Linked DNA regions of Homo sapiens: region 1 is linked to region 2. Evidence: fine-mapped expression QTL. A gene starts in region 2. The other region holds a variant in brackets. All regions are shown on one strand. Distances are between the middles of the regions. Region 1 holds the start of LOC105372630 (a long non-coding RNA gene). Region 2 holds the start of SYS1 (SYS1 golgi trafficking protein).

Region 1 (15,298 bases), 120 kb before region 2:
CTCTTGGGTATAATTATGGAAGTGGAATTTTTGATTCTGGTGTGCTATAAGGTTCTAACTATATTATTTTGCATGTGGATATCCAGTTTTCCCAGTATGATTTGCTGAAAAGATGACTTTTTCTACTGAATAGTTTTTCTACCCTTGTTGAAGATAAGTGAATTGACAATGTAATGGTTGATTTTTGGACTCCCAATTCTATTCCTTTGATATATGTGTCTATGCTTATGCTAGTACCACACTGTCTTGACACTGTAGCTTTGCCGTAAGTGTTGAAATATGGAAGTATGAGTCTTCTACATTTGCACTCTTTTTCAAGATTGTGGTTGCTATTCTGGGTTCTATGCATTTACACATGAACTTTAGGATTAACATGTCAATTTCTACAAAAAGTCATCTGTAACTTTATAGGAATTCCATTTAGTTTTTAGATAAAATATGGAAAATTGCCTGCCTAAGAATATTGAGTCTTCAATCCACAAACATGGAATGGCTCTCTATTTTTATGTCTTCTTTAATTTCTTTCATCATGATTTGTTGTTTTCAACAAATGTACATGTCTTGCCATTATTTTCTTAAATAAATTCCTGTGTATTTCATTCTTTTCGATGCTATTGTAAATGGATTTTTTTCATGATGCAATTGAAAGGTATAGGTTGATATTTTGTCCTGCACCTTGATGAGTTGTTTATTAGCTCTAATAATATTTTGGAGTTATGTGGATTCTTAAAAGTTTTCTACATATGTCATCATGTCAGTATTTCATGTATGGGAAATCTAATGGTGAAAAACATGAAGTATTCATATATCTGGGAGTACCTTAATTTTTCCCTAACTTGTGAAGGATAGATTTGCCAAGATATAGAATTCTTGGTAGACCGATATTTCTTTCACCACTTTTAATATGTTCTCTCACTATCTTCTGGCTTGCATGGTTCTAATGATAAATCAGCTGTTAAGCTTATTTATTAGTCATTTTGAGTTATTTATCTCTTGCTGCTTTCAAGAATTTCTCGGCCAAGCGCGGTGGCTCATGCCTATAATCCCAGCACTTTGGGAGGCTGAGGTGGGCAGATCATGAGGTCAGGAGTTAGAGACCAGCCTGGCCAACATGGTGAAACCCCGTCTCTATTAAAGATACAAAAAATTAGCTGGGCGTGGTGGTGTGCACCTGTAATCCCAGCTACTCGAGAAGCTGGGACAGGAGAATCGCTTGAACCCAGGAGGCGGAGGTTGCAGTGAGCCAAGATTGTGCCATTGCACTCCAGCCTGAGCGACAGGATGAGACTGTTTCAAAGAAAAAAGAATTTATTTTTGTCTTTGTCATTGATATTTCCATTATAAATTGTCTAGGTGTGGATCTCTTACAGTTTTTTCTTAGTGTTCATTGAGATTTTTATACATGGAGATTTGTGTTTTAAAGCAAAATCAAATGTTTTTAGCCATTACATCTTCAAATATCTGTCTGCCTCTTTCTTTCTCTCTCCTTTCTTCTGGGATTTCCATTATGCACATGTTTTTCCATTAGATTGTATTACACAGGTCTCTTTCTTTATCGTTCCTCAGAGTGTATAATCTCAATTGACCTATAATTATAGTAGTTGTTCCTCTCTTCTGTCTATTCCTATCTGCTGGTAAGACCCTCTTGTGACTTTCTGTATCAGCGATTTTACTTTACAACCTCATCATTCATCATGAATTTTTTTTATGATGTGAAACTGATTTTTATACTTTCTGTTAATCTTTTTGCCCATGATTTCCTTTAGTTCTTTGAGTATAATAACTGATATCTTTGTCCACTAGGCCATTGTCTGGGATTCCTAAAGGATCATTTCTATTTATTGTTTCCCCTCTTTTCTGTGTATGGGCAGTATTTCATGTTTCTTTAAACATCTCATAATTTTTAAATAAAATTGTACTTTCTACGTAATATAATTTGGCAGCTTTGGAAATCAGAATCTATCTTTAGCATTTGTTTGTGTGGTTTTTATTGCTGAATACTTGCTTAGTAACATTCCTGGACTAATTTTGTAAAGTCTGTGTTATGCATCGTGTACAGCCACTAAATTCCCTGTTTCGTTTGCTTACTAGTCAGATAATGAATGGACACCAATGATCTTAAGTCCTGTAAGCCATAAGTTGGCCTTTTGACTTTATCAACTAGTGAAGTTTTGACACAGTCATGAAGACATTAAGACATGAATTAAATGAGAAAAATTTTTCACGAATTAAACTTAAAGCCTGTGGTGCACAAGGAACTAGATTTTTCATAAATCTAGAAATTATCTTGCTAATAGATCAATATCTGGCTCTTACTTTCTGTCTGTGTGTGTTTCAATGTTAATGTAGTAAAAGTAAACACTTCAAATGCACCCTTATCTGAACATGGCTGTGAGGAGTCGGTTTCAAATGTTCTGGATACACAGTGGGAAGAGGGAAATTGGTCAGTCCTGATGCAGTCCCTGGGAAAAACAATGCCCTCCTATTACCTAAAAATTCGACAGTATAAAGTAAGAATTAGGAAGAGCCAGGACAGTTCTGCAACACCCCGAAAAAAGGAAAATCCATGGGGGCTCTGAAAAATTACACCCCAGAAGTTGTTTCACGTGGTTGCTTCCTGGAAGTGAAAGAAAACAGCTGGTGCTTCCGGGTCAAGTTGAGGCACCTCTGATCTCCAGCCCCCGGAGCCACAGCACCACCTGCTGGTGGGGCCCCGCTAGAGCTGACATAGACAGGTCCAGCCTCCAGGTGCGCCCAATCCCTTTTCTTGCATTATGAAGCTAAGCAGCCTCTCTCAACTCACTGTGACCGTCCCCCTTTGCCTCCTCCACATGGCCCAGCCTGGAGCCCTGAAAAGTGGCGGGTAGGGCGTGGCGACGCGTACTGTGGCTGGAGTTGGGGAGCATTTCCTCTGAGGAGTCCATGCGACGACCTGGCCCTCATGCCTGGAAGTCACTTGGTGTCCCCGACTCACCCTGTGGCATTTTTCTCCAGCTGCACAGAAACCTGAATGTTGCCCAGAGTTTTCTGTTGCCTGCCCTTTCATCCTGTTACCCATGTGCTGGCAGGATAAAATTTGCAAAGGGGTTAAATGGTGTTGCTACTACGAACGTCGGCATTAGTGTATGGAGTCCTGCTGGACTTTGGATTGAGGTTAGGAGCCCCAGATCTGCTGCCCGTGAAACCTTCCTGCAGAAGCATTGTCTTAGAAGGAGTTGAGAACTTCATGTTCCCCTAGAAAATCGTTGTGATCAGAGGTTTTAAATTGGGTCGACCCATAGATCTGCCTCTGGACAATGAAGCAAGACCTCCTTGCTTAGATTATGCACCTTCCATTTCACACAACGGACTTCACCCTTCTCCTCTCTGTAAAGAGGATATTTCAGCAAGATTCATTAAGATCCTCAACAGTTACCGGGTTTTTATTATTTTTTATTCCTATTTTCTACAGCTTATAATAATGAAACACTTTCCTCTTCATATTTACATTGTGAGTGTTTATATAATTTCACACTTCCTTAGGATGGCTTGCCTAGAATCCCTGATCCCCGTCCTTGATTCCTGGATAGCACATGCCAGTGTTCTTTGGAGAATACATAAGAGGATCCAGACAATGGCGTCCTATTGCCTCAAAATCTGCTGGATGAAGTAAAAATGATGAAGAGTTCTGTAACACCCTGAAAGGAGGCAGTCCATGAGGGCTCTCAGAAGTTACATCCCAGTTGTTTCACGTTGTCTCTTCCTGGAGGTGAAAGGAAACAGATGGTGCTTCCGGGTTAAGCGGAGGCACCTCTGACCTCCAGCCCCGGGAGTCAAAACGCCATCTGTTGATGGGGCCCCGCCAAAGCTGACATAGACAGGTCCAGCCTCCAGGTGCCCCCACACCGTTTTCTTGCATTATGAAGCTGAGCGGCTTCTTTCTACTCTCTGTGAACATCCTCCTTTGCCTCTGAATGACCCAGCCTGGAGTCTTGAGGAGTGCAGGTAGGGCCTGGCGACCCTGGGTGTGGCTGGGGTTGGGAACGTTTCCTCTGAGGAGTCCATGGGGTGACCTGGCCTGGAAATCACACATTGGTGCCCACTCATCCTACGGCTTTTTTTTTTTTTTTTGGAGTCTCGTTCTGTCACCCAGGCTGGAGTGCAGTGACGAGATCTCGGCTCACTGCATCCTCCGCCTCCTGGATTTAAGCGATTCTCCTGCCTCAGCCTCCTGACCTATGGCGTTTTTTCCAGCTGCACGGAAACCGGGATATTGCCCAGAGTTTGATCTTGACTGCCCTTTCACTCTCTTACCTATGCGCTGGCGTGATAAGAGTTGCAGGGGGTCAAGAAGTGTTGCTACTACAACTGTCGGCATCAGTGTATGGAGCCCTGGTGGACTTTGGATTGAGGTGAGGAGCCCCAGATCTGCTGTTCTCCTTGCTGCCCCTAACTCCTTCCCTCAGAAGCATTTGTCTTAGAGAGAACTGAGAACTTCCCATGCGTTTAGCAACCGTTGTGAGCAGGGCTTTTAAATTGGGTCAGTCCACGCATTTGCCTCTCTAAAGTGAAGGAGGAGGCTCAACAGACCTCTTTGCTCAGATATGCACCTTCCACTTCACATAATGGGCATCACTCTTCTCCTCTCTATAACTCTCTATAATGTCGACATTTCAACAAGATTATCTCTAAGGTACTCAATAGTTACTGGATTTTATTATTTATTTTCAAATCCTTTTACTTACAGTTTACAATCATGAAACATTTTCCTCTTTACATTTACATCGTGAGGTAAGTTTATAATTTCACAATTCCTTAGGATGGCTTGCCTAGAGTCCCTGATCCCCAGTCCCTGACTCTTTGGCAGCACCTGCCAGTGTTCTTGTGAGGAGAATACCTAACAGGAATCACGCCTCAATGCCCCCGGGACACAAAACCATGTGCCCTGTACATTTTGCATCTTCCTATATCTCTGGTTTCCTGTTCTCTCCCAAGATGGAAAGCCCTTCTTAACCAGGACTGAGGAGACACAAGTGCTACAGGCTCAGTCTGGGATAACTGGTCTCCATGTTGTCCATGATCGCTCAGGCCCAGAACTTCCTTTTAGCAAGAGTTAAATGCTTCTTACTATGATAACAAGACGAAGAAATAAAGCGTTGTATATTTAAAACTCTTTGAAAATCTAAGTCTGCTGGATTGATCTCTTGCTCTCCCTCTCTACTCAGCCATGTTGCATAATCCCTTAGGAACTGTAAAATGGACAGAGTTACTGTTTCACATTTAGTTTCATCAATTCCTGCACTTGTGTTTTTCTGATATATTTGTCTCTTTCAATATCTCCTGACACTCAGATTCTCTGTTGGTCAGATTCCAGGTGCATTTTGGAGTTAAATTCTCTGGGTTTGCATCCTATGAATGGCATGCCGATTAATCCTGTAATGGAAGAGCAAGGCATTTTTGCTTCAGTTTTTCTGGTACTACTGCTGGTGGCCTTTCCAAGTGTTGAAGTAATATGATCTGCGATTGGATTTGGAACTTAGGGTCAGAAACTGAGCAAGATGTACTTTAGTTCTAGGTACTTTCATTCCTAAAAATTGAGCCACCCTAAATTAGGAGAACAAAATCCTTGTGGTTCAGCCTACATCCCTTGAGTCTTTGCTTGAGGGTTGGGCCCTAGGTCTACCTAATAATGAAGTGTAATTAGCCATGAATTTTCCAAATTTATAACTCTGTGCTTCATTCTTCCTTAACTCCCACAAATGTTGCAGAGGTCTGGGAAAGTAATTTTCCAAAATTTTATTTATCTCTGACAAGTATCTTAACAATTTTGAAAAACTACTTTTTCCCAAGCATGTTTTAAACTGACATCTAATAATTTTATCATCATTGCATAGTTTCAAGAGATAAAAATTTAGGTATATGATAAATGTTGTCATTTAAATCAAATGGGTATCTTACTCTATGAGGTTTCTAATAGAATCTAACTACAATGTTCATTTGTTAGTAACATCTATTAGGGAAGAAAAAAAACATGTCCTTTTTCCTCATCATCTCTCTATCTTTCACATCAGAGAGGAGCTACCCTCTCTGCAAGAGCTTCGAAGAGAGAAGCTACCCTTTCTGCGAGAGCTTCAAAGACCAGCAGACATCCGAACACCCTGCCTGCAGAGAGGAGCCACCCTCTCCAGGGCCCCCTCTCTGTTGAGAGCTGAATACTCAAGGGATGATCTGCCTACAGAGAGTAACAACCCACTACAGGTCTCCTCTGAGCTCTTCTAACACTAAATAAAGCTCTTCTTCATCGTCTTCACCCTTCACTTGTCTGTGTACCTTATTCTTTCTGGATGCAGAACAGGAACTCAGGCAAAGGTGCCACCAGCCACAGAGGTTTCTGGAAAGAAAATGAACACCCCAAAGATCATGTAACACTTCTACTAATTTGGGTTTGGCTTGTTCTTGCTTTTCTAGTTTTTTGAGATGCATTGTTAGGTTACTTATTTGATATCTTTCCAGTTTTTTTATGTAGGGGCTTATTGCTATTAACTTGCCTCTTAATACTATTTTTGCCATGCTCCATAAGTTTCGTTTTTTTGTATTTCTACTTTTGATTGTTTCAAGGAATTTTTAATTTTATTCTTAATTTCTTTTTTCATCCACTGGTCATTCAGGAGCATGTCGTTTAATTTCCATATATTTTGTATAGTTTTGAATGTTCCTGTTGTTATTGATGTCTAGTTTTATTTCCTTGTGGTCATATAAGATACTTGATATGATTTTGATTTTTTAAAATTTTTTGAGACTTCTTTTGTATTTTAGCACTTGGTCAATCCTGGAGAATGTTTCATGTGCAGATACAACAAAAGTGCATTCCATAGCTGCTGGGTAAAATGTTTTGCAAATGTCTGTTAAGTTCATTTGATCTATAGTACAGTTTAAACTTGATGCTTCTGGGTTAATTTTCCATCTTGATTATCTTTCCAATACTGAGAGTAGGGTGTTAAAATCCCCACGTATTATTGCGTTAGAGTCTATCTCTCCCTTCAGCTCTAATAATGTTCACCTTATATATCCAGATGCTCCAGTGTTGGGTGCATATATATTTATAATTATTATGTTCTCTTGCTGAATTAGTCCCTTTACTATTACATAATGTTCTTATTTGTCCCTTTTTCCAGATTTTGACTTGAAGTCTATTTTGTCTGATATTAGTATAGCTACTCCTTCTTGCTTTTGGTTTCTGTTTGCATGGAATATCTTTTCCATACCTTCAATTCAACCCCATATATGTCTTTACAGGTGATGTGAGTTCTCGTGGGCAGGACACAGTTGAGTTTAGGTGTTTTACCCATTCAGCCAGTCTACATATTTTAAATGGTGAATTTAATCCATTTATATTCGGGGCTGTTGTTGAAAGGTGAGGGCTTAAACCTCTTATTTTATTGATTGTTTTCTGATTGTTTCATATATCTTTTGTTCCTTACTTCCTATCTTATTGTAAGTTTTGGGCTGGGTTGTTTTCTGTGGTGACAATTCTTGATTCTTTTCTCTTCCTCCTTTGTGTATCGGCTCTGCCAGTGAGTTTTAGAGTTTCTTAAACTTTCATGATGGTGGCAGTTGTCTTCTCACTTCCAGACATGACTCTCTTGAAAATATTTTGTAAAGCCAGTCTAGTGGTGATGAATCCCCTTAGCTATTGCTTATCTATGAAGAATTTTATTTCTCTTTCATTTCTGAAAGATAATTTTGCTGGGTATTCTTGTCCACTAGTTTTTTTTTTCTTTTAGTAATTTGAATATATTATTCCATTCTCTTCTGGACTATAAGG[T/A]TTTTGCTAAGAAATCCTCTGTTAGTCTGATGAGGATTTCATTATATGTGACATGATGCTTTTCTCTTCTTGTTTTAAGAATTCTTTCTTTGTCTGTGACTTTTGACAATTTGACAATAGCGTGCCTCAGAAAGGACCTGTTTGGGTTGAACCTAAATGGGGTGTTTTGAGCTTCCTGGACCTGTATGTCCATCTCACTGCCAATACTTGGGAAGTTTTCAGCTATTTTTAACATGTTATTTATACATTTTCCATTCTCTTTTCTTCTGGAATGCCCGTAATGTGAATACTTGTTCACTTAATTTTGAACAAATGGTGTCCCCAGAATCCTGTAGGCTTTCTTCATTTATTTTTATTCTTTTTTATCTTTTTGTCTGCTGATATTATTTCAAGTATCCTGTCCTCTAGTGTAGAAATTATTTCTACTCTGTTGTTAAAGTTCACAGTTGTATTTTTTTATTTTATTCATTGAATTCTTCAACTCTAGAATTTTTGTTTGGTACATGGCTGCGTGGCCAGCCTGGGAGTGTTCCTGCCAGGGGTAGCCCATGAGGCTGTTTCTCAGGCCCAGGATGTGGTCACACAGCTGCTTGGCTGACCCGGGTGTATGTCGGCTGGGGGCAACCTGAAAGACTGCTTCTCTGTCCTGGAATGCAAGCACAAGGCTGTCCAGCTGGACTTGGGGGTCTGTCTGCTGGAGGTGGCCCCAGAGGGCTGCTTCTTAGGTCTAGGATGCAGGGCACACAGCTGATTGACCCTCCTGGGGGCATGTCTGCCAGGGGTTGACCACAGGGCTGCTTCTCAAGCCTGGATTACAGGTGCAAGGCTGCTTGGCTGGACTCAGTGCATGTCTGCTGGGGCTTTCTGTTTCTCAGCCCCAGGATGTGAATTAATGGCTGCTCAGCCCACCTGAAGGCTTCCCCTGGTGAGGAAGCCTGTGGTGTTGTTTCTCAGTCCCAGGGCATGGCTGCACAGCTGCTCATGCAGCCTAGGGCATGTCTGCCAGGGGCAGCCCACAGGTCTGTATCTCAGGCCCTGATTGTGGGTGCAGGGCCATTGGGTAGGCCAGGGGCTTGTTTGAGTGGGTGGGGCACCATGGAAATGTTTCTAATCCCTAGACATGGATGTGTACCTGCTTCTCAGGCCTTGGAATGTGTCAACTTCTCAGAGGCCTGAGCACCACTTTCACTCAGAGGAGGGTGTGCAGCAGTTTGACTGGTTCAAGGGCAGGTTTACCCTGTGCGGGACTGTCATGCCATTCCTCCAGGCGGAAGTGAGGGCAGCGGGGGTTGTTTGTTCTACAGGACCAGAGTCACAGCCAGTCCTGTATCCACACTTGATGCTGCTGGGATTATGGCATTCAGCCACTGGTGTGGGCCTGGTGGAATGAAGACCAAGCCCTGTTGAGGGAAAAGTGCAGTGGCTACTGGGCTCCACAGGAGGGCGCACTCCACAGGTGGCTCTGGTCTCAAGATGGCACCTGCTGCAGCATCTTGGCTGACAGTGGGTAGGTGGACTATGAGGAGTGCACCCCTTGTGCTTTCAGTTCAAAGCAATGCACCTGCATGAATTCCTAGCAGCGTTTCAAACGGCTCAGGGCTTGTGTGTGAGTACTGCAGGATTCTCCGTAGTAAGGATTTTAGGTGTTTGTGGTGGTAGTGGAGACTAGTGCGGTTCTTTTGCTTACCTTTTCCCCACAATAGGATGTCCTCCTGACTCCAGATAGATCGGATCCAGGTGTGGAAGACAGGGCGGCAGATGCTGGATGCATCCATGCTGCCCTGCTAGACTTCCAATCCCCACAGGTGCATCTCCACTCCCCTGCTATATTCGAATACTCTTCCTTGGACTCTCTAATCGAGTTTCATCAGTTTATTCATTGCTTTGGTACTTTCTTGTGGGGAGAATGAGTGCCTGTCTTCTATAGTCAGTCGTCTTGGTGACATCACTGAGCTAAATTTCTTTATACTGCATATCCCATCCTGAATTATTGGAGTCTTTTTTAAAATAATTTTTATTCTTAACCTTCATACTAAAGATATGATTTGCATACCACCATTATAGTATTAGAGCATTCTGAATTTATGTAATTACTTCTACTACTAATGAGTTCTATACTTTTAATTTTTTTATTGTTACACATGAGTACTCTTTCTTTCATCTTTTCTTTAGCTTTTCTTGTAAGAGAGGGTTCCCCATCCGCCCCCCACCCCCACTCAGCCCACATAGCAGGAGGTGAGCAGAGAGTGAGTGAGCGTTACCACCTGAGCTCTGCCTCCTGTCAGATCAGGGGTGGCATTAGTTTCTCATAGGAGCAGGAACCTTATTGTGAACTGTGCATGCAAGGGATCTAGGTTGCATGCTCCCTATGGCCCCCACTGCCCCGCCCCACCACCCCCTCCCTCCCCACCCCTATCCATGGAAAAATTGTCTTCCACGAAATCAGTCCCTGGTGCCAAAAGGTTTAGGATCACTGTTGTAAGATATGCCTGTTAGTGATGAAGTTCTTCAGCTTTTGATTGTCTAGGAAAGTATTTCTCCTTCATTTCTGAAAGACAACTTTTCTGGGTACAGTATCCACGGATAACAGTTTTTTTTTTCTTCATCACTTTGAATATCTCATGCCACTCTCCTTCTGGCCTTTAAGGTTCCTGTTGAGAAGTTTGTATGTAGGTATATTGGAACTCCCTTATATGTTATTTGCTTCTTTTCTCTTGCTGCTTTCAGGATCCTTTCTTTGTCTTTGATCTTTTATAGTTTGACTATTATATGTATGTCTGGTATTTTTTGGACTGAATCTGATTGGTGACCTTTGACCTTTCTGTACCTTGATATATCAGGGGGTTTGCTAGGGCCTGTTGCAATACATTTCTCTGGTATTTCTGAGAGATTGTTAGTCCCTAATCTACTGGTGCCATCAATTCCACAAATCCACAGCAGCCCAACCCGTCACTTGGTTCAAGGACTGTGCTCCTCCTACAGTATCCATTAAGATCTTAAGATCTTGTACCAGCGATTGATGTGGCAACTCTCTACCATTTCAGTAAGCATGACTGGGTAAAACAATCTGTGAATAGACATACCAGAGGATGGTCTAAAAGAGTTTTGGGGGTTGGGAAGTCTTAAAATGGAAGCTCTGCTGCCTATACTGTCTTCTTCCCCTCTCCTAAGAAAGTTTCCAGGGAAGGATAAACCTCTAGGAGAAGAAGCCAGAATGGGAGAATAGAAAACCTTTGGACTGGGGATAGGAGATCTGGATTTTAGTTCCAGCTCTGCCATAAGAACCTGTGCATCTTCAATTAAATCTGTTTTCTCTCCAAGCTTAAGTTCCTCATCTGCACATAGAAAATTTGGTGTAGTAATTCTGATCATGCGTGCTAGCCCAACATTCTGGGAGTTCATTTAAAAAGAAGAAAGAAGGAAAGATAAAATAAAGAAAGGAGAGAAAGGAAGGAAGAAAGAAAGAAGAAAGAAAAAAGGAAGAAAGAAGGAAGAAAGGAAGAAGGAAGGAAACAAAGAAGAAAGGAAGAGAGGAGGAAGGAAGGAAAGAGTGAGAGAGAAAGAAAGAAGAAGGAAGGAAGGAAGGATCTTCTCTATCAGATCTAAATTTTGCCTGTAGGTGTGTGGTAACAGACATCATCACAGTGGCATGAGAACCTGTCTCCACTGCACTGTTCCCTAGAGCACGGATGCCCTGTGCTCAGCCACCTGCCTTATTTTTCCAGCCCAGCAATTGAAGAGGAGAGACCATGGTGGGCTTAGGGGCCTTAGCATCAGGGAAGCTATAATTCCCTGCTAGAGTCTGGTGACAAGATTCTCACTTTTATGTGTGGCCAGAGATACATTCAACAGTGTTCTTGACACACTGGTAATGGTATGGAGTCAGGAAGGGTATCTAAATTGATATGCCAACAAGCAAAAGAGCCAGAGCCATAAATGCTCTGGGAGAATACACTCAAGAATATGCTGGTTATTAGCAGGCGAACAATTAAAATTTTGGATCTCCTAGCAAAGTTAACAGTTCTATACATAAATGTACAATTAGCATGAACCTTGGTTTTCACCACTTACATAGTCTTGAGCAGCAAGGTCTCTGATGCTGAACTTCTGCATCTTTTTCTTTTCTTTTCTTTTTTCTTTTTTCTCACTCTGTCACCCAGGCTGGAGTGCAGTGGTGTGATCTTGGCTCACTGCAGCATTGACCTGATTTTCCCACCTCAGCCCCCTGAGTAGCTGGGATTACAGGTGCACGCCACCATGGCCAGCTAATTTTTTGTATTTTTAGTAGAGATGGGGTTTCACTATGCTGCCCAGGATGGTCTTGAACTCCTGAACTCAAGCAATCTGCCTGTCTCGGCCTCCCAGAGTGCTGGGATTACAGGCATGAGCCCCCACGCCTGGCCAGACCTCCTGCGTCTTAATGTGGGAATAATAATAACCATGTCATATAGATTTTCAGAGGTATTGAGTGAGATTATCTCAGCCCCAGTGCTCAATAAAAAGTTCCAGCATGACAACAAATTTGGTAATAATAATAATAAAACAATCTTTTATTATATCTTAATATTGAGGTAAAATATATACAAAGAAAAGCACAGATCTAATGTATTTATTTGAATGAGATTTGGCAAATACATATGTGTAGTTACACAAAATCATATGGAGATATAGAACATTCTCATCAACCTTGAAAGTTGTCTATGACGCATTCAAATTTAATTCCAACCCTTCAGGGGCAATCATTATGCTGACATCTACCAATTTAAGACTTGCCTGTTTTTTCTCATTTAAGAAGCATTTATTGTTATAAATGCACTCAGGCACTGTAAGACATAACATAAATGAAATAATTTTCAGATAAAAGCAACTGCTTATTATTTTATCCTGCCTTTATATTATTTTTATAAACTGCCTTCAGAAGGTATCATTCATTACCATACCAGTTGGGTGGTCTGTAATATATTCCCACAAGGTTTGTCTTCCCTTTATTTCTTCTTTTGTTCTTACAAACATGTATTCTACAGTGTTGCTGCTTCTAAGTTCATTGATTTTCTCTTATGTATTATTTTGATATGCAATGCTTTTTTTTTTTTTGAGATGGAATCTCCCTCATTGTGTCACCCAGGCTGAAGCGCCTGCAACCTCCACCTCCCAGGCTCAAGTGATTCTTCTGCCTCAGCCCCCAATTAGGTGAGATTACAGGTGTGTGCCACCATATCCAGCTACTTTTTGTATTTTTAGTAGAGATGGGGTTTCACCATGTTGGCCAGGCTGGTCTCGAACCCCTGACCTCAAGTGATTCGCCCATCTTAGCCTCCCAAAGTGCTGGTACTACAGGCATGAGCCACCATGCCCACTCTTGATATACAATGCTTCTTAACCCCCTTCCTAATAAGATCATTTCTTTTTAACAATGTATATAATATTCTGGACTGAAGTTCAATCCCACAAATTATCAGTGATGATAACAATTTATAATTACCATTCTTGGTTAAAATCTCAACTTAACATGAGCATTGGCACAAATTCTATAAACAAGCCACTTTTAAAAGCCCCAATAAAGTTGACTATATAATTAAAGTGACCTAGTTCAAATAGAAACAAGTGACAGTAGAAGTGAATTAATATTATATGTGCTACATGGTAGTGTAGTTATGATACTCATAATTTTGTATTGCCATTGTAGATATTTTCTTCTAGTGCTTTCAAGTTACCAACAGATATTTATATTCAAGATTTAAGAAAAATATTTCAGAATTCCCAGGAATTCTTTAAATTAAAGTTGTTCTTAAAGTTTATCCAACATTCTTCACACTGCTTACTCATTATAGACATGGTTTGATGGTTAAGAAACATTGAGTTTATCACATTTACAAAGAACTGTAGGTTGTGAATATTCATACTCTCAGAAATATGCTAGTTATTAGCAGGTGAACAATTAAAATTTCGGATCTCCTTAGCAAAGTTAACAGTTCTATACAGAACTGTAAACCAAAATTGCCAATTTCAGAACTTATTTGCTTCCAAACTTGTTATTTCCTGAAACACCACTCATAGGATTTATATATATATTCACTTGTACGTCTATTAAAATTAATTTTATTTGCAAGAATGACTCACTATTAGTAGCATACAGAATGATAAGCATATACTCCTAATGTGGCAACAGGTACAAGCAACATGATTAGATGGTGACTGCTTTTTCCTTAGTGCTCCTGATTCATTCTCTGAACACATTGACCTTAATTTTTGGCTCTACATGTCAGCATTTTCTGGTCTTTGCTTTAGACTTCTAACCAGCAATGTTACTATTTTGAATCCCAAGGTTTAATTCTTACAAAAGAATGTAAAGACTATAATACTTTTTTTTTTTTTTTGCCAGGCACAGTGGCTCACGCCTGTAATTCCAGAACTTTGGGAGGCTGAAGAGGGTGGATCACCCTGAGATCAGGAGTTCAAGACTAGCCTGACCAACATAGTGAAACCCTGTCTCTACTAAAAATACAAAAATTAGCTGGGCATGGTGGAGGGCACCCGTAATCCCAGCTACTCGGGAGGCCGAGGCAAGAGAATCACTTGAACCTGGGAGGTGGAGGTTGCAGTGAGCTGGGATTGCATCATTGCACTCCAGCCTGGGTGACAAGTGTGAAACTCCATCTCAAGAAAAAAAATAAAAATAAACAAAAACACTGGCCAAGCTCTCAATGTTAAGTAGAAATGGTGAAGACAGACATCCTTGCCTTCTCCTAACCTTAAGGAGAAAACATCCAATATTTTACCATTAGAGATGATGTTTATCAGCGGCATACCAAGGATTGTGGCAGTGGGAGTGGTTCATCTGAGGAGGAGGGAGTGTTTATCTCTGACTCTGTTTAAAATTGCCAGCACATAGTGATAATATACAGTACAGCTTTTTAAGCCACTTTTATTATTATTCTTAAATTCTCTACAATTGGGGGACCTATTTATTGCTTACAACTGGGGTGAACTCCTTCCAATAACCTCCTTCCACTTCAGTACACCACTAAGATATGCTTTAAGTTGAATATAGTGCCCTTTATCATATTGAGAGGGAGAGCTTCTCTTCCTTGCAGGTGGAGAAGTTTTATAATAAATGGGTTTTGGATTTGTCAAATACTTTCTCTGTTGAGATGATCATATAGTGAATTACACTGACTAATTTTAATACAAAACATATCCTGAATGTGTGTCTCATTTGACCTTAATGTATAATCTATTTAACATATTTTTGGACTGAGTTTATGACTACTTGGTTAGAGATTTTTATGCCTATGTCTATGAAGGATGTTAGACTGTAAGTAAACTTTTTTATAATGTTCTTCCCAGGTTTTAGTATCACAGTTATCTTAGGCTCATAAAAGAAGTTGGGAAGTGTTTTCTCTGCTTCTCTTGTCTTAAAACATTTTTGTAGAATGTATAATTTGTAGATGTTTAATAGCATTTACCTGTGAAGCCACCTGGACCAGCAGTGTA
Region 2 (15,298 bases):
CACTCCATCACCCAGGCTGGAGTGCAGTGGCACAACCTCTGCTCACTGCAACCTTAGCCTCCTGAGTTCAAGTGATTCTTGTGCCTCAGCCTCCCAAGTAGCTGGAATTACAGGTGCACATCACCATGCCTAGCTAATTTTAGTATTTTTAGTAGAGATGGGGTTTCGCCACATTGGCCAGGCTTGTCTCAAACTCCTGACTTCAAGTGACCCGCGTGCCTCGGCCTTCCAAAGTGCTGGTATTACAGGCATGAGCGACTATACCCAATCTCATGGAGGTTTTAGTGAGCTAATTGGAGAGAAAAATTGCCACAGCCACCTAATTAAGACAGGTATTTCTAAAACAACTTTACTTTTTCTACTTAATAATTATTTATCAAAGTTTGTAGGACTGGTTTAGAGAGTGATGTGATTTGGATGTTTGTCCCCTCCAAATCTCATGTTGAAATGTGATTCCTAATGTTGGAGGTGGGGCCTGGAGGTGACTGGATCCTGGGGCAGATCCCTCATGAATAGTTTAGCATTATCCACTTGGTGATAAATGAATTCTCACTCTCAGTTCACGCTGGATCTGGTTGTTTAAGAGTCTGGGAACTCCACCTTCCCTGTCTCTTGGTCCTGATGATGCCATGTGAGATGTCTGCTACCCCATTACCTTCCGCCATGATTGGAAGTTTCCTGAGCCCCTCGCCAGAAGCAAATGCTGGAGCCATGCTTGTATAGCCTGCAGAACTGTAAGCCAATTAAACCTCTTTTCTTTATAAATTACCCAATCTCATATATTTATAGTAACGCAAACAGCCTAACACAGCAAGCATATATTTATGTCAATTGTATACTTTAAATATGTATAGCTTATTTTATGCCAGTTGTACCTTAATGAAGCTGTTTAAATTATTGCAGGACTTTTTAAAAGAGTCATCAGTAAGCCTCTGACGCATTAAAAAAAAACACATTATGATAAAATTTTGTGGTGGAACATGGAGTAGAAATTTGACTTCAAATAGAAAAAGAAATGATGCAAAATGTCTGACTCTTAGAAAAGAGCTTGTTCATGTATTTTTTAAATGGATGATTGTAGGTATCGAATTGCTAGGGCATTTAATTTAACTGGATACATTTAAAAGAGTGATGTAATTGTTTTACTTTTACGTGTATAAATTTACAATATGCCAGAAATTACAACCTTTGCAACTATTTAAACTTTTGATGAAAAATGTTAAGCTATCAACTAAAAATTATGTCAAGGAGTACCTAGTCTTAAAATAATCATTTACAGAGTACACTAGCAAAAAAACAAAAACAAAAACTGAAAACAGCTCGTTTAGAGAGTTAATGGAAGTTCTTCTATAAAACTATCTTAACCTCCTGGAATTAAGGAAATAATTTCCCCTTCCCCAAGTTCTGAGAATCTCTAAAGGGATGCAACATGTTTGAATATAATTATTTGTGGATGTATGGGTCTTTAACCTGGGCTCCATGACTGGGGGCAGAGGACACATGCATGGTCAGTACTCCTCTAGGTTATGTGTCTCTGCATACATTATTTTGGGGCAAGAAACTTCAGATTCTTTCTTTATATCCACAAAAAGAGGATGTTTGGGGGATCCTCCTTTTGGGTGATCCTGACCCCCAAAGAGTTAAAAATAATTTGTCCAAAACCTGAGATTCTTTGAGAAGTTTTATTGGGTTCTTCTTTGGCCTCCAAAAAACAAAATGCAGTAGTCAAAGGTTTGTAATACTGAATAGGAGTTCCTAATTTCCTGCATGGGGCTGAGGTACAAAAACCCAAACAACCAAACAAAACCCACAGTGTTTACAGCCAGAAGTTCTTCATTAAAATCCTGTTTCCAGGACTTGCCAACTGGAGGAAAGTTTGTGAGTCCCTTTGCTCCTCCCTACAATGGAGATAATTCCCTCTTGAACTAATTAGGAGAATGGAATAAGGTGAAGTGGTGAACACATAACATATACTCACCTATGTTGGGTCCAGCACTCTTTCTGTATATTCTAACCTGAGATTGAGTGAGTCTGAGAGATGGCATTGGTCAAACACTTTACATCCTCCCCCTAGCTTCCTTTCAAGCAAAAGGAAATGATCTAGGACATCAACAGGCAGCCCCCTCCCATGGAGCTAAAAAATGAGCTCAGACCCAGCCTATAGCAGAGGTGGTGTCCCTCCCCCTTTTCTCAGACTTCCTAGGCCGGAGTTAACCAAGGCTAGGTGCACACCTGGTACATCCAGAGACACCTTAAATGCTACCTTCTCCTGGAATCCTCCATCCTCTTCTTTTAATTCTCATTTCTTCCTGCCTTGAGGTTTCTAGGACTCTATCTGTCCCACTCTTTGGGCAGGCATCCCTTTCTCACTCATGTTAGTTTTAGGTGAAGAGCACAGTCTTCAAAGTTAAAGAGACCTAGATTGCAATCTTGGTGGTATGGAGCAAGACACTTTTTCTCTCTGTGCCTCAGTTTTCTCATGTGTCCCCCCATGTAATTTGAGGGTCATTATAGTTCTTAACATCATAAAAATGTTAAGACTACAGTGCTTAGCACAATACGGAGCATCAAAGTGTTATCTATTTTTATAATCAAGGGGGCCTCCCCATAAGAGTCTTGACTTACTCCCCTCCCCAGCAGCTCCTCACACATGGTTAATAACAGGTAACACATTACTATTTTCAGAACAGAAAAAGGATTGGGCCATAGGGCTCTCGCCCAGGATGGTGCCAACCCTTTCTGGTCTTCCTCAGTTTATGTAAATCTCTCTCCAGCTACAGATAATGACAGCTTAGAGTTTCCAGGGGCTGTGGAATGTCCAGCCACTGCCTTGCATAACCACAGAAACTAAGAACACTAGGCCCAGAAGGGTCCTCTCAAATCATTCAGTCCAACAGTACCCGCATTATAAGATAGGCAAACCGAGGCCCACACGGTGAATCAGCATCCACCACAGGCATTTTGAAGAATTCTAAAAATAACACCTCCAATTACTCTTTCCACTTGCTTTGCTTTATTTTTTTGTCGTAACATTTCCCTTACCTGCCATCACGCACTTATTCTTTTACTTGTTTATTTTCTGTTTTCTCTGCCACATGTAAGTTTCATGAGGGCAAGAACATTGTTGTGTTCACAACTGCATCCCTTGCACCTTGTCCAAGGTCTGGCAGAGGTTTACATTCAGTAAATACTTGTCGCATGGATAACTGGATGAATGCCATTTGGACATTTTCCCTTAGAGGCTCAGATGTAGCAATTCACTCACTTGGTCATTTATCCAAAAAACATCTGATGAATATCTTGTATGTGAGAAGCTTTTTGATAAATCCTGGTGAACAAGACCTGTCCGTGTTCTTAAGCAGCTCCCTGATTAGCGGACAATAGCTGCCAGCTATACAGTAGACTGAGGATCTACTATATGCCAAGCTGTGGGCTGGCAACTTTATATGCATCTTCTCTGTCTTAGCTCAGTTCTTGCAATTGCGAGGAAACATGCCTCACTCAGGACTCCTTAAGAAAAGGCTTAGGAGTTATTAGGAGGACCGGGAGGGCTAAAGGTTAAAACTGAAAGGGAAACATCAAGGACTGAGATGATGCCACAGACTGGCTGACTCATCTCTTGCTCTTTAAGCCTGCTTATTCTTTCTTTAAGAGTGTCTCTTCTTTTTCCTGGATGTGTGCCTCTCTCTCTTTTACTGACTTACTGGTTCTCTCTTCTAGTCTAAATTTTGGGAGGGGACCACAAGACTCATTGGCTTGGCCAATGGCCTTCCTTATTCCTTAAGTAAGCGCCTGCAGCCCAGACCACTTTTTGGATTACTATTTGGCCTAGAGGTTGAACATTTAGCTTCTCACATACCCTGAGCAGAGTGTATGTTTAATCAGAAGGGAGTGTTGAGCATCATCTTCACTTGGATGCTGTGAAGTAAGTAGTTTTATCTCTATTTTACAGATGAGAAAACAGGCGGAGCAAGGAGAAATGACAACAAAACCGTAACTGTAACAAAGCTGCCCTAACCCACCTGCAAATCTACAATTGAGAAATCCATTTCTGTTGCCCCTGAGATTTGTGGGGTGTTTGTTAAGTAGCAAAAGCTGACTGATACAAGATTCAAACTCAAGTTTCTTTGATTCTGTCTGCATCACCATGCTGTCTCACTGAACTTACAGCCCTGATTCCTGTTCCTGATTCCCAAGTGTCCTGTCCTAAAAGGAGCAGAGATAAATATTGTATTCATCCATTTTCTGATGTTATAACAGAATCCCACACTGTTGGTGTTCTGAGTATACTGACATTCCTTGACGCTAGATTTTATATTGTTGATTGACTTGTTTATCATCTCTCTCCTCTATGAGATTAGAGTATTTTCTCTTTATTCACTTTATTCATTTATATCCATACCACCTGGATCAGTTTCTGGCACATAATAAATGCTCAATGAATATTTATCAAGTAGATGATTGAATGAATAAATAATGATAAAAAGGAAGTGTAAAAAAACAACTTTTCATCTTAAAACAAGGCCCTGAGTCCTTTAAGGTCAGAATAAAGAATAATTTCTAGGTAGGGACAGAAAGTTTAGTACATGATGGATGGGGTCAAGAATCAAGGTAAGAAAACTTGAAGGTGTGAGGCTGGGCACAGTGTCTCATGCCTGTAACCCCAGCCCTCTGGGAGGCCATGGCATGAGGATCACGTGAGCCCAGAAGTTTGAGACCAGCCTGGGCAACATAGTGAGATTCCTTTTCTACATAAAATAAAATAAAAATAGCCAGGCCTGATGGTATGCACCTGTAGTCCCAGCTACTCAGGAGGTTGAGGTGGGAAGATTGCTTCAGCCCCGGAGTGTGAGCCTGCAGTGAGATATGATAGCGCCACTGCACTCCAGCCTGGGTGACAGAGCAAGGACCTGTCTCTAAAATAACAACAAAGGCCGGGCACAGTGGCTTACACCTGTAATCCCAACACTTTAGGAGGCTGAGGTGGGCAGATCACCTGAGGTCAGGAGTTCGAAACCAGCCTGACCAACATGGTGAAACCCCGTCTCTACTAAAAATACAAAATTAGCCGGGCATGGTGGCACATGCCTGTAAATCCTAGCTAGTCAGGAGGCTGAGGTAGGAGAATCACTTGAACCCAGGAGGCGGAGGTTGCAGTGAGCCAAGATCACACCGTTACACTCTAGACTGAGCAACAAGAGTGAAACTCCGTCTTAAAAATAAAATAAAATAAAACAACAGTACAACAATGAAAATAATACAAATAAAAATTAAAATATAGTTTCACAACTATTTACATTGTATTAGATGTTTAGAGATGACTTAAAGAATGTGGGAAGATTGCATAGACTATATGCAAATACTATACCATTTTATATAAAGGATTTGAGCTTCTCTGGGTTTTCATATCTGCCAGGAGTCCTGGAACCAACCACCCATGGATGCTGAGGGATGGCTGTACTCAGAGGTCCTTCCACCCACTGTCATGCCTGGCATCATCCACCCTGCATAGATAGAGGGTTTGCAGAAAACCCCTGATCATTAGACACAGAACACAGAAAACCAGTTTCCTGACTCCCTCTGGTGTGAAGGAAAGAACAGGGAGGTTGGGGTGGAAAGTTAGAGTGGAAAGACAGACACCCCAGATGTTTCTTAACTTTTGATTATTCCAGCTGACAAGACATGCCACACCTCAATGTGTACTGAGTGTGAGTCACTTCCTTCTCTAAGCCTCAATTTCCTTACCTGTAACATGTGGACAATGTTTATACCTACATCCCTGGGGCTGTTGCAACAATAAGATGAGGTCAGGTAGATGAAAGCTGTATGTCACTGTAATGTCCAGTGCCTTTTTTTTTTTTTGAGACAGAGTCTCACTCTGTCACCCAGGCTGGAGTGCAGTGGTACAATCTCAGCTCACTGCAACCTCTGCCTCGCAGGTTCAAGCAATTCTCCTGCCTCAGCCTCCCAAGTAGCTGGGATTACAGGCATGCACCACCACTCCTGGCTAATTTTTGTATTTTTTGTACAGACAGGGTTTCTCCATGTTGGCCAGGCTGGCCGCCAACTCCTGATTGCAGGTGGATCCACCCACCTCAGCCTCCCAAAGTGTTGGAATTACAGGCATGAACCACCTTGCCTGGCCTTCAGTGCGCTTTTTGTTACACACTGAGAAGGAATAGTGTGTGGAGTCAAACTGGCCTGGGTTGGAGTTCAGCTCTACCACTCACTGGCAGCATGGCTCTGGGTAAATGTCCCTTCTCTGAGCCTCAGGATCTGCATGTGTTCAGTGGGGCTATTAATAGTTCTCAACTCACAGGCTTGTTTTAGAAATTAAATAAGGATTAAATTATATAAGTGCCTGTCATACAGTAGATGCTCAGCAAATATTCCTCCCCAAACACAGACACAAACAGCACTTAAAGCAACCTGGGTAACAAAGGGGTTTTCGGTCTGGAGGAGAAACCAGGCAGCTAATGAGCTCTCTCTCCAGTTTTCCTTCTAAGAGAGGAACTCACTGGCCAGAGCCCAGGATGGTCACCGATGTAGAGGACAGGCAGCCAACTCCAAGCCTCCCACGTGGGGTTTCCAAAAACCTGTGAGCACAGAGTTGCATAACGTGTCCCTGAGACACGTGTTTCTACTGAAGTGTCTTCATCAAATATTCCCTGAAAGGAAACATGTGAGCAGGGCAGTAGGGCAGCCTAGCGGGGGAGGAAGGGAGAGGGGGAGGAAGGGAGAGAGGGAGGGATCTAGAGAACACGACAGTAGGGGTGAGAGGAGGAAGAGAAGGTATCACATTTAATGTGCTCTTACTATGGGCCAGCCACCGGGCTTGACTTGTCTGATACATTGTTAGATCCTTGCCATAAATCTGAGATCAGGCATTTCCGTTCCCACATTCCAGAGGAAGAAATAATAACAATCATATTAACATTGCTGAGGTTAACATAGTGCCCACTGCATATCAGGCAGTGGACTAAGCACACATTTGACCCTCAGGACAGCCCATAACATGGGTACTATTCTGAACTCCACTTTATAGAAGAGGAAACCAACTGAGACTCAGAGACATGAAGTAACTTTCCCAAGGTCACCCAGCAGGACAGCAAGACAGCCAGAGAGCCAGGATTCGAATCTAAGCAGGGCTCTCAAGCCTATGGGCCTATGGGAGAACATTTCCCAAGGGATTTATGGGGGTGGATCCAGAAGGTGACCTTAGCGATTGTCCTTACATGCATGCAGTGGGGCCCCAGTGTGAAAGTGACGAAAGAGACCAAGTGACCAGAGGCACTCCCCTCCCCTCCACCCAAAGGACAGTTTGTCCCAGCTTGTGGCTTTTCGTCACTCTGCCTCTGACCTGAAGTTTAACATTTCATTCATAAGTTTGGAACCACAGACTTGGCAGCGTAGGAAGAACCCTCGTAGACCAGCTAGCTATTCAAATCCAATCCCCTCATATTACAGATGGAAGAAAACCCTGAAGCCGGAATGTGACTCGCCAAGGTCACAGAGCAGTTTTCTGTTGGATGAAGGAGCCGGTTTAGGGTCAACTACAGATCATCTTGTGCTGTAGTTATCAAATGTGGGTGCACCTCTGAATCACTTGGGGAGCTCTCTAAATACACAGATTTCCACACTCTGCTTTGGGAGACTTGAACTGGACTTAGGTTTGCAAACAAGGACTGGAAATTTGAATATCCAGTATGTTCCTCAGGTGATTCAGATGGCACAGGGCCATGACAGCATCTGCAAGTCGGAGTCCAATGTCCCTCTTTCATTTGATAGTTTGGGATACTGGGACCCACCAGGGGACTCGCCCAAGGTCACATAGCAAGCCAGTGGGGCTCTAGTTCAGACTCTGTGGTCTGAAGCAGACTGCTTGTGGTCAAATTTGAAAATGGGCCAATGAAGCTAAACAAAGGGGTTGCCATGATTTTCCCCAGCTCTTGGTTTCCTTCTTGGATCCAAATTAAGACGGAGGATGATGTACATTTCCGAAGCTTGGCAAGGCGGGAATCCAAGAACTGAACTCCCAAAGGGGAAAGGAAAGGGCAGGAGGTTAGCTTGCACGCCCAGTGGGGTTTTCCCAGAGGTGAGCTCCGGACTCCAGGGATGACATCAGACATTCCAGCCAGCCCTAATATCAAAAGCTACCTGTGTTTTCTAGTTCAGCAGAATGGGTAGGCAGGGCCTTTCCTATTGGGAGGAGATGGGGTGGAGTGGGCCCAGCTGTGACGTGAAGGGAGCAGAGCCCAGGAAGAGCCACGCATTCCAGCATCTGCAAGGAAGACAGCTGCCCTGGGTATTGTCAACCTCTGCAGCCCTTTTCTAAGCCTTTCCTCCCATTTCTCCCTAATCCCTCACCCCAGGGCTAACTGAGCAGAGAGATTCACTGCCCCTTTTCCACTTCCTGCTACTCCACCACCTATTTTACTATCTCCCTTCCTTTATTTCCCTCTCCCTCCCTCCCTTCCTCCCTTCTTTCCTGTTCTTTTATTCTAAAATGGCATCTTGGCTGGACACAGCGGCTTATGCCTGTAATCCTAACACTTTGGGAGGCCAAGGTGGGAGGATTGCTTGAGCCCAGGGTTCAGGACCAGCCTGGACAACATAGGGATACCCTGTCTCTACAAAAAAATAAAATTAAATGAAAAATCAAAAAAGCCAAGTGCGGGCCAGGCATGGTGACTCATGCCTATAATCCCAGCACTTTGGGAGGCTGAGGCGGGCAGATCACTTGAGGTCAGGAGTCCAGACCAGCCTGGCCACAATGGTGAAATCCCATCTCTACTAAAAATACAAAAATTAGCTGGGCATGGTGGCACACACCTGTAATCCCAGCTACTCAGGAGGCTGAGGCATGAGAATCGCTCGAACCCGGGAGGCGGAGGTTGCAGTGAGCCAAGATCATGCCACTGCACCCCAGCCTGAGCGACAGAGCAAGACTCCGTTTCAAAAAAAGCCAGGTGTGGTGGCACATGCCTGTGGTCTCAGCTATTCGGGAGGCCGAGGCTTGGGCCTGGGAGTTTGAGGGTGCAGTGAGCCATGATTGCGCCACTGCAAACCAGCATGGGTGACAGATTGAGACCCTGTTTCAAAGAACCAAACTAAACCAAACCAAAACTAAACTAAAAGTCATCTTGATGTTTGGAGTCAGTTGTCCTGAATTTGAATCTCAGCTCTGCTCCCTGTGAGCTCTCTGACCTAGAGAGTCACACCACCTCCCCCCAAGCCTAGTTTCCTCCCCTATAAAAAGGGGACAATAGCTATATTTTCAGATTGTGAGAATTAAACAAGATCATGTAGGCACTTAAGAAACAGATGTTTTCTCAGAAACACTAGATCATGTGCATAATCAGTGAACTAGAGGAATTTGAATACATATTTGTTGGACTGAATTGAGGTGCCTAAAAGAATGGTTGAGCTGGAAAGCACCTAAGAAATCTTTGGGCCTTAATAACTCCCCAACTGGAGTCCAGGGGAACTGTTCAGGGTATTTCCAAATGATAAGGACAATCGCACACTCTCAATAAAGTCTCAAGTTTCTTTACTTTTGTCTGGAATTGTATCAGCTCAAGGTGATAACACGGCTACCACAAGCTGTTCAGAAATTCTGATTGGCAGTTACATGGCTCTTTGATACGTTTTTTTTTTTTTTTTTTTGAGACGGAGTCTCGCTCTGTCGCCCAGGCTGGACTGCAGTGGCGCAATCTCGGCTCACTGCAAGCTTCGCCTCCCAGGTTCACGCCATTCTCCTGTCTCAGCCTCCCGAGTAGCTGGGACTACATGCGCCTGCCACCAGGCCCGGCTAATTTTCTGTATTTTTAATAGAGATGGGGTTTCACCATGTTAGCCAGGATGGTCTTGAACTCCTGACCTTGTGATCTGCCCGCCTCAGCCTCCCAAAGTGCTGGGATTACAGGCATGAGCCACTGTGCCCAGCCTAAGTTTTTTTTTTAATGAGAAAATAATTACTGGAAGGTAGATTAAATGGTGGAAAACGTTAATCATGTCCAACTCCTCATTTCATAAACAGGGAAGCTGAGGTTTAAAGAAGGAAGTGGCTTGCTGGTCACACTGGGTGGCATAGCTGGCCCTAAAACCCAAATTCTTTTCCTGGAACAACTTACTTCCCGTCTTTCCACTTCAGAGAGGGGGAACCTAGGATCAATGAAGTTGATGGGTTTTCGTCTGCTGGAGTAGGAATAAGTGAGTTATCGATTTGCTCTTGCTTTTTCTGTTCTTAACTCATTCAGCAAATATTTACTGACTGTCCACTATTCGGATTTGGAAGATAGATAAAACAGTCATGGCAGCAGAGAGGGTCAGGATTTACTCCTATGTGCGACTTCAGAACCTGTGCCTTTTTCCACTGGACACCCACATTTTAAAACACCCACTACTCTGCCTTCTAATATAGTTCATCTGTGTCTCAGGGCAGGGGCTGTCTTATATATACATGTTCTAGCCTTCCTGCCACCGAGTAGGTGCGAAATCAATGTTGTAGTGTTGAGGAAACACTTGAATTTTATTTATTTATTTATTTATTTATTTATTTATTTAGAGACGGAGTTTTGCTCTTGTTGCCCAGGCTGGAGTGCAATGGCGTGATCTCGGCTCACTGCAACCTCTGCCTCCCGGGTTCAAGCAATTCTCCTGGCTCAGCCTCCCGAGTAGCTAGGACTACAGGCGTGCGCCACCACGCCCCGCTAATTTTGTATTTTTAGCAGAGACGGGGTTTCTCCATGTTGGTCAGGCTGGTCTCGAAACACCGACCTCAGGTAATCCGCCCACCTCAGCCTCCCAAAGTGCTGGGATTACAGGCGTGAGCCACCGCGCCCGACCAACACTTGAATTTTAATACTTACTTTGCTACTAACTGTGTCGTTGAAACAGTATGTTGCTTTCCTTCTCTGGCCCTTAGCTTAACTATCTGTACAGCGGGAACATTGGCAAACTCCTACGTGGAGGAGCTTGCAGGTCCACTTCAAGTTATCAGACTCTAACTAGGAGAAAACATTGAGAATTTAGGCTGAAAATAACGACACAGTTTATCACCTCGTTAATTCCCAAACATCATTACCGCGTCCTAAGCCACCCCACTTGCCTCTCCCCTAGCCGCCTTCCTTTAAAAAAAGAATTCCCCTCTAGAGGGCGCGCAAGCTCTGCGGCCTTCGTTCCTCTCTTCCGTTTGCCTTCACTCTTCCTTCTGCGCATGTGCTCAGTTCGCTATCCGGCTGCTTGTACCTGGTTCAGGAGGTTCAGGCAGAGGTTGCACCCACTACGCCTGCGCAACCTCAGCCCCGCCCCTCCGCTGCTTTCCCCGGAAACGTTTCTTTCCTACGCAGCCGCTCCTGCCGCCGTGGTCGCTGGAGCTTTGCCTCTCTAGGCCGGCAGCGCCTCTCCTCCATGGTCCTGTCTGTCAGCGCTGTTTTGGGAGCCCGCCGGTGAGGCCGGGCCACGCTCAGACACTTCGATCGTCGAGTCTGTCACTGGTGAGTAGACCCCAGAGGAGCTCGTGTACGGGCGGGGGCCGCGCAGGCGGAATGGGCTGGATTTCCCCTCACTCTGAGAATGGGTCTGTCTGCCCCGCCTTCCCCCTGACTCTTGGAATGGGCTCACCCCTTGGTTCCAGTCCCTCCTCCCGGGCGGGGCGACGTTGCCATGGAGACAGGCCGCTGGCTGAGGCCCGGCTCGTGTCCCTGCAGGGCATGGCGGGTCAGTTCCGCAGCTACGTGTGGGACCCGCTGCTGATCCTGTCGCAGATCGTCCTCATGCAGACCGTGTATTACGGCTCGCTGGGCCTGTGGCTGGCGCTGGTGGACGGGCTAGTGCGAAGCAGCCCCTCGCTGGACCAGATGTTCGACGCCGAGGTAGGGTCCCCGGACTGGGGCGGGTGGGGTCTCGGCCTCCCCGAGTAGGCTTTGTGGTCCATCACTACTGTGCTGTAGACGTGGCTGGGTCACCTTCTTTCTTTGTAGCCCTGGGAAAGGGATTTCACCTTTCTGAGCCTCAGCTGCCTCATCCATAAAATGGAATGACAGCAGAGGCTGATTAGTACAAAGAAAAGGGCCTGGATGTTAATACAATAAACACGTCTGTGTTCCAGGCAACTCTGATACATTTCCTTTCTGATACTCTGGGAAAGTGACTTGATTTCTCTGAGCTAGGTTCTCAGGTGCCACATCGGAGAGAGGGGTGGATAAAAGAGCATTCGTGCGGGTACAGTGGAAACTGCCTGGACTTTGGGGTCAGACAGGCGTCCGTTTAAGATCCACTTACTAGCTGTGTGACCTGGGGCAAATGTCACCTCTGTGAACTTGTTTTCCTGTCTTCAAAACCATGAGACTAGTTGCAGAGAGGTCGTGGACTGCAATATAAAGAGCATGTGCTTTGGGTTCAGAAAAGCAAGGGTTCAGTCTAGGCCTAAACATATAAAACTAGCTGTGGGACCTTGGGCAAGTTGCTTCCCCTTTCTGAGCCTTTTCTGAAAAGTGGGCCGGATGCTCCTACCATGTTGCCCTCAACAAAATGTTACAAGGCCCAGAGGGGTTTAGGAATAAGAAGGTACTTTGTAAAGTGTAAAGGAGGCCTATAAGTTGTTACATCTAAGAGGCAGCTGTGGCGTGGTGATGAGCACAGTTCTTTTTTTTTTTTTTTTTTTTTTTTGAGACGGAGTCTCCCTCTGTCGCCCAGGCTGGAGTGCAGTGGCAGGATCTCGGCTCACTGCAAGCTCCGCCTCCCGGGTTCACGCCATTCTCCTGCCTCAGCCTCCCAAGTAGCTGGGACTACAGGCGCCCGCCACTACGCCCGGCTAATTTTTTGTATTTTTAGTAGAGACGGGGTTTCACCGTTTTAGCCGGGATGGTCTCGATCTCCTGACCTCGTGATCCGCCTGCCTCGGCCTCCCAAAGTGCTGGGATTACAGGCGTGAGCCACCGCGCCCGGCCGAGCACAGTTCTTAAAGCCAGGAGACCTGGGATGGAGTCCTTGCTCCTGCTGCTTGTTCTCTGTGTTAGCCCTTGGGCAAGTTATTATCCAAAAAGTGATAAGAATTAAAAGAAGAAGAATGGCTTTGTGAGGTTTTTTTAGGGATAATATGAGATTATGTATGTCAAAGACCTTTCTTTGTCAGCTGAAAGTGTGGTGCAGATGTTTGGCATTTGATAGTATTGTGTTGGATAGTGGAGGTTGCACACCCACCATATGCCTAGTTGTAGTCTCGTAGGAGACTCTATGCTCCTGGGAAGAGCTGTGGGAATGCCAGGCTTTGTTGAAGAGCCATATGATGCACACAACCTGAGTTCTAGCCTAGGGATCAGCAAACCTTTCCTTTAAGGGTGAAGTAGTAAGGATTTTAGGTCACAATTATTCAGCTCTGCCATTGTAGCACAGAAGGCTGCTATAGACAAATATATAAGTGAATAGGTGTGGCTGTGTTTCAATAAAACCTTATGTACAGGAGCAGATGCCAGGCCTATGGAGCCATAGTCAGCTGAACGCTGTTCTAGACTTTACTCTTGTTGTTTATTACTTTGGGCAACTTAACTTGTCTGAGTTTTTACGTCCTCCTTTGTAAAATGAGAATAATCCCTTTCCACCTGCTGTGAGAAACAAATGAAATCCCATAATGGATGTCTATGAAAGCACCTATTGGAAATAGGCTGCCGTACAGATGTAGGGAGGTATTATCTTCTGTGCTCTGGGAAGAATGCTTGTTCCTTAGGAGGCTTGCTGAGATCCTGGGGCTCTGCCAAGTCACTTCTCCAGTATATTTCCATTTGTGATTCCCCCTCAGATCCTGGGCTTTTCCACCCCTCCAGGCCGGCTCTCCATGATGTCCTTCATCCTCAACGCCCTCACCTGGTGAGTATCACCAGTTTTGCTATCCAGCTTTTGGGCTCTTAGTGCTGGGACTAACTTCCTAAGTTTGAACATGAGACAGGCTGGCACTTGTTTCTGGGGAGTGGTGGAGTAAAGTGGGTGACAGAGGCCAGTTCTGGGACCAGCTGTATAATGGGCCTCCTTCCATTGCTGTTTTGACTTACCTGGAAAGCTCTTATGTCACTATGTTTGTGCTGCCTGCAAGACAACTTCCATCTCAGATAACTTCCCTGATGTGGAGTGAGCTGAGAAAGGATTCGACCGAGAGGCAGGAGAACTGGGTTCTGTTCTTGGTTTGTGTGCCATTGGCCAAGTTACTTGCCATGGGCCTCAGGCTCCTCTTTTGTCCATGAGGGTTTGGACTCAGTGATGTCTAAGGTCACACGTAATCATTGCCTGTCTCTTAAGAGGCAGTTTAGCATAGTGGTCAAGGTGTCAGGCTCTGGAGGCAGACTCATTTGGCATTGAACCTCAGCTTTACTACTAGTCTAGTGACTTTGGACAAGTTAATCTACCACAGTTGCCTCATCAGTAAAATGGGGCTAGTAATATTACCTACCTCATAGTTGTAAGGATTAAATAAGTTAATTCACAAGAAGGACTTAGAACAGTGCCTTGCATGTTATTATTATTCTTGTCCTTACACCGGAGGTTGAAAACTGGTGGGCTGACTTTGACCTAAATTTGTCTTCCAGATAGGTTCTATTTGGCTTACATAGATGTCAGCCCACACATGGTGTTTAAAACATTTTTTTCACTTAGTTGAAAATCAGGCTATTTTATATAAAAATCCAGATTTCTGGCTTCTCTTGAATAATGGAATGACTGACTGATTCCAGGCCAACCTTCTAGCATGATAAGATTTGCCTAGATGCAAGTAGCTACTGCCCCCCTTTAGCTAGAACATGTATGCTTCAGGGTGTCATGATCCCCACCAATTCCTAGGATCCCCTAGTGACAATTGCCATCGATCATCAAGCTCATACTCAGTCAGCTTCACTCTTGACATTACCCGCCAGGTTCTTCTAGGCGTCTGGTATCATAACCCTTGCTTCACACTTATCTCGTCACTTCTGACCACTATGCTGCCGTCCTAATTGTCCCTACCCTCCCAAATAACCTAAGGCCAGGACAACCCAGTGACAACTCACTGCTGTCCTCTCCCCACAGTGCCCTGGGCTTGCTGTACTTCATCCGGCGAGGAAAGCAGTGTCTGGATTTCACTGTCACTGTCCATTTCTTTCACCTCCTGGGCTGCTGGTTCTACAGCTCCCGTTTCCCCTCGGCGCTGACCTGGTGGCTGGTCCAAGCCGTGTGCATTGCACTCATGGCTGTCATCGGGGAGTACCTGTGCATGCGGACGGAGCTCAAGGAGATACCCCTCAACTCAGCCCCTAAATCCAATGTCTAG

The links. PIP is the estimated chance that this variant, and not a neighbour inherited with it, causes the effect.
Region 1: its variant is fine-mapped to the expression of SYS1 in monocytes after triphosphate RNA (Kim-Hellmuth 2017, PIP 0.95).

What each region holds. Positions count from the first base shown.
Region 1 is chr20:45,227,043-45,242,340 of GRCh38, forward strand. LOC105372630 (a long non-coding RNA gene) reads left to right here and starts at 3,795. Exons shown (of 3, transcript XR_936763.3): 1 at 3,795-3,984; 2 at 4,234-4,391. LOC124904913 (a long non-coding RNA gene) reads right to left here. Exons shown (of 2, transcript XR_007067605.1): 2 at 12,326-15,298. The variant T/A (reference allele first, on the strand shown) is at 7,805.
Region 2 is chr20:45,351,818-45,367,115 of GRCh38, forward strand. It overlaps SYS1 (SYS1 golgi trafficking protein), which reads left to right and starts at 11,339. Exons shown (of 4, transcript NM_033542.4): 1 at 11,339-11,498; 2 at 11,712-11,876; 3 at 13,802-13,869; 4 at 15,058-15,298. The coding sequence starts at 11,715. The coding sequence ends at 15,298. It overlaps SYS1-DBNDD2 (SYS1-DBNDD2 readthrough (NMD candidate)), which reads left to right and starts at 11,352. Exons shown (of 6, transcript NR_003189.2): 1 at 11,352-11,498; 2 at 11,712-11,876; 3 at 13,802-13,869. It overlaps LOC124904914 (a long non-coding RNA gene), which reads right to left and starts at 11,551. Exons shown (of 2, transcript XR_007067609.1): 1 at 11,251-11,551; 2 at 10,539-11,009. RefSeq lists an enhancer at 11,069-11,508.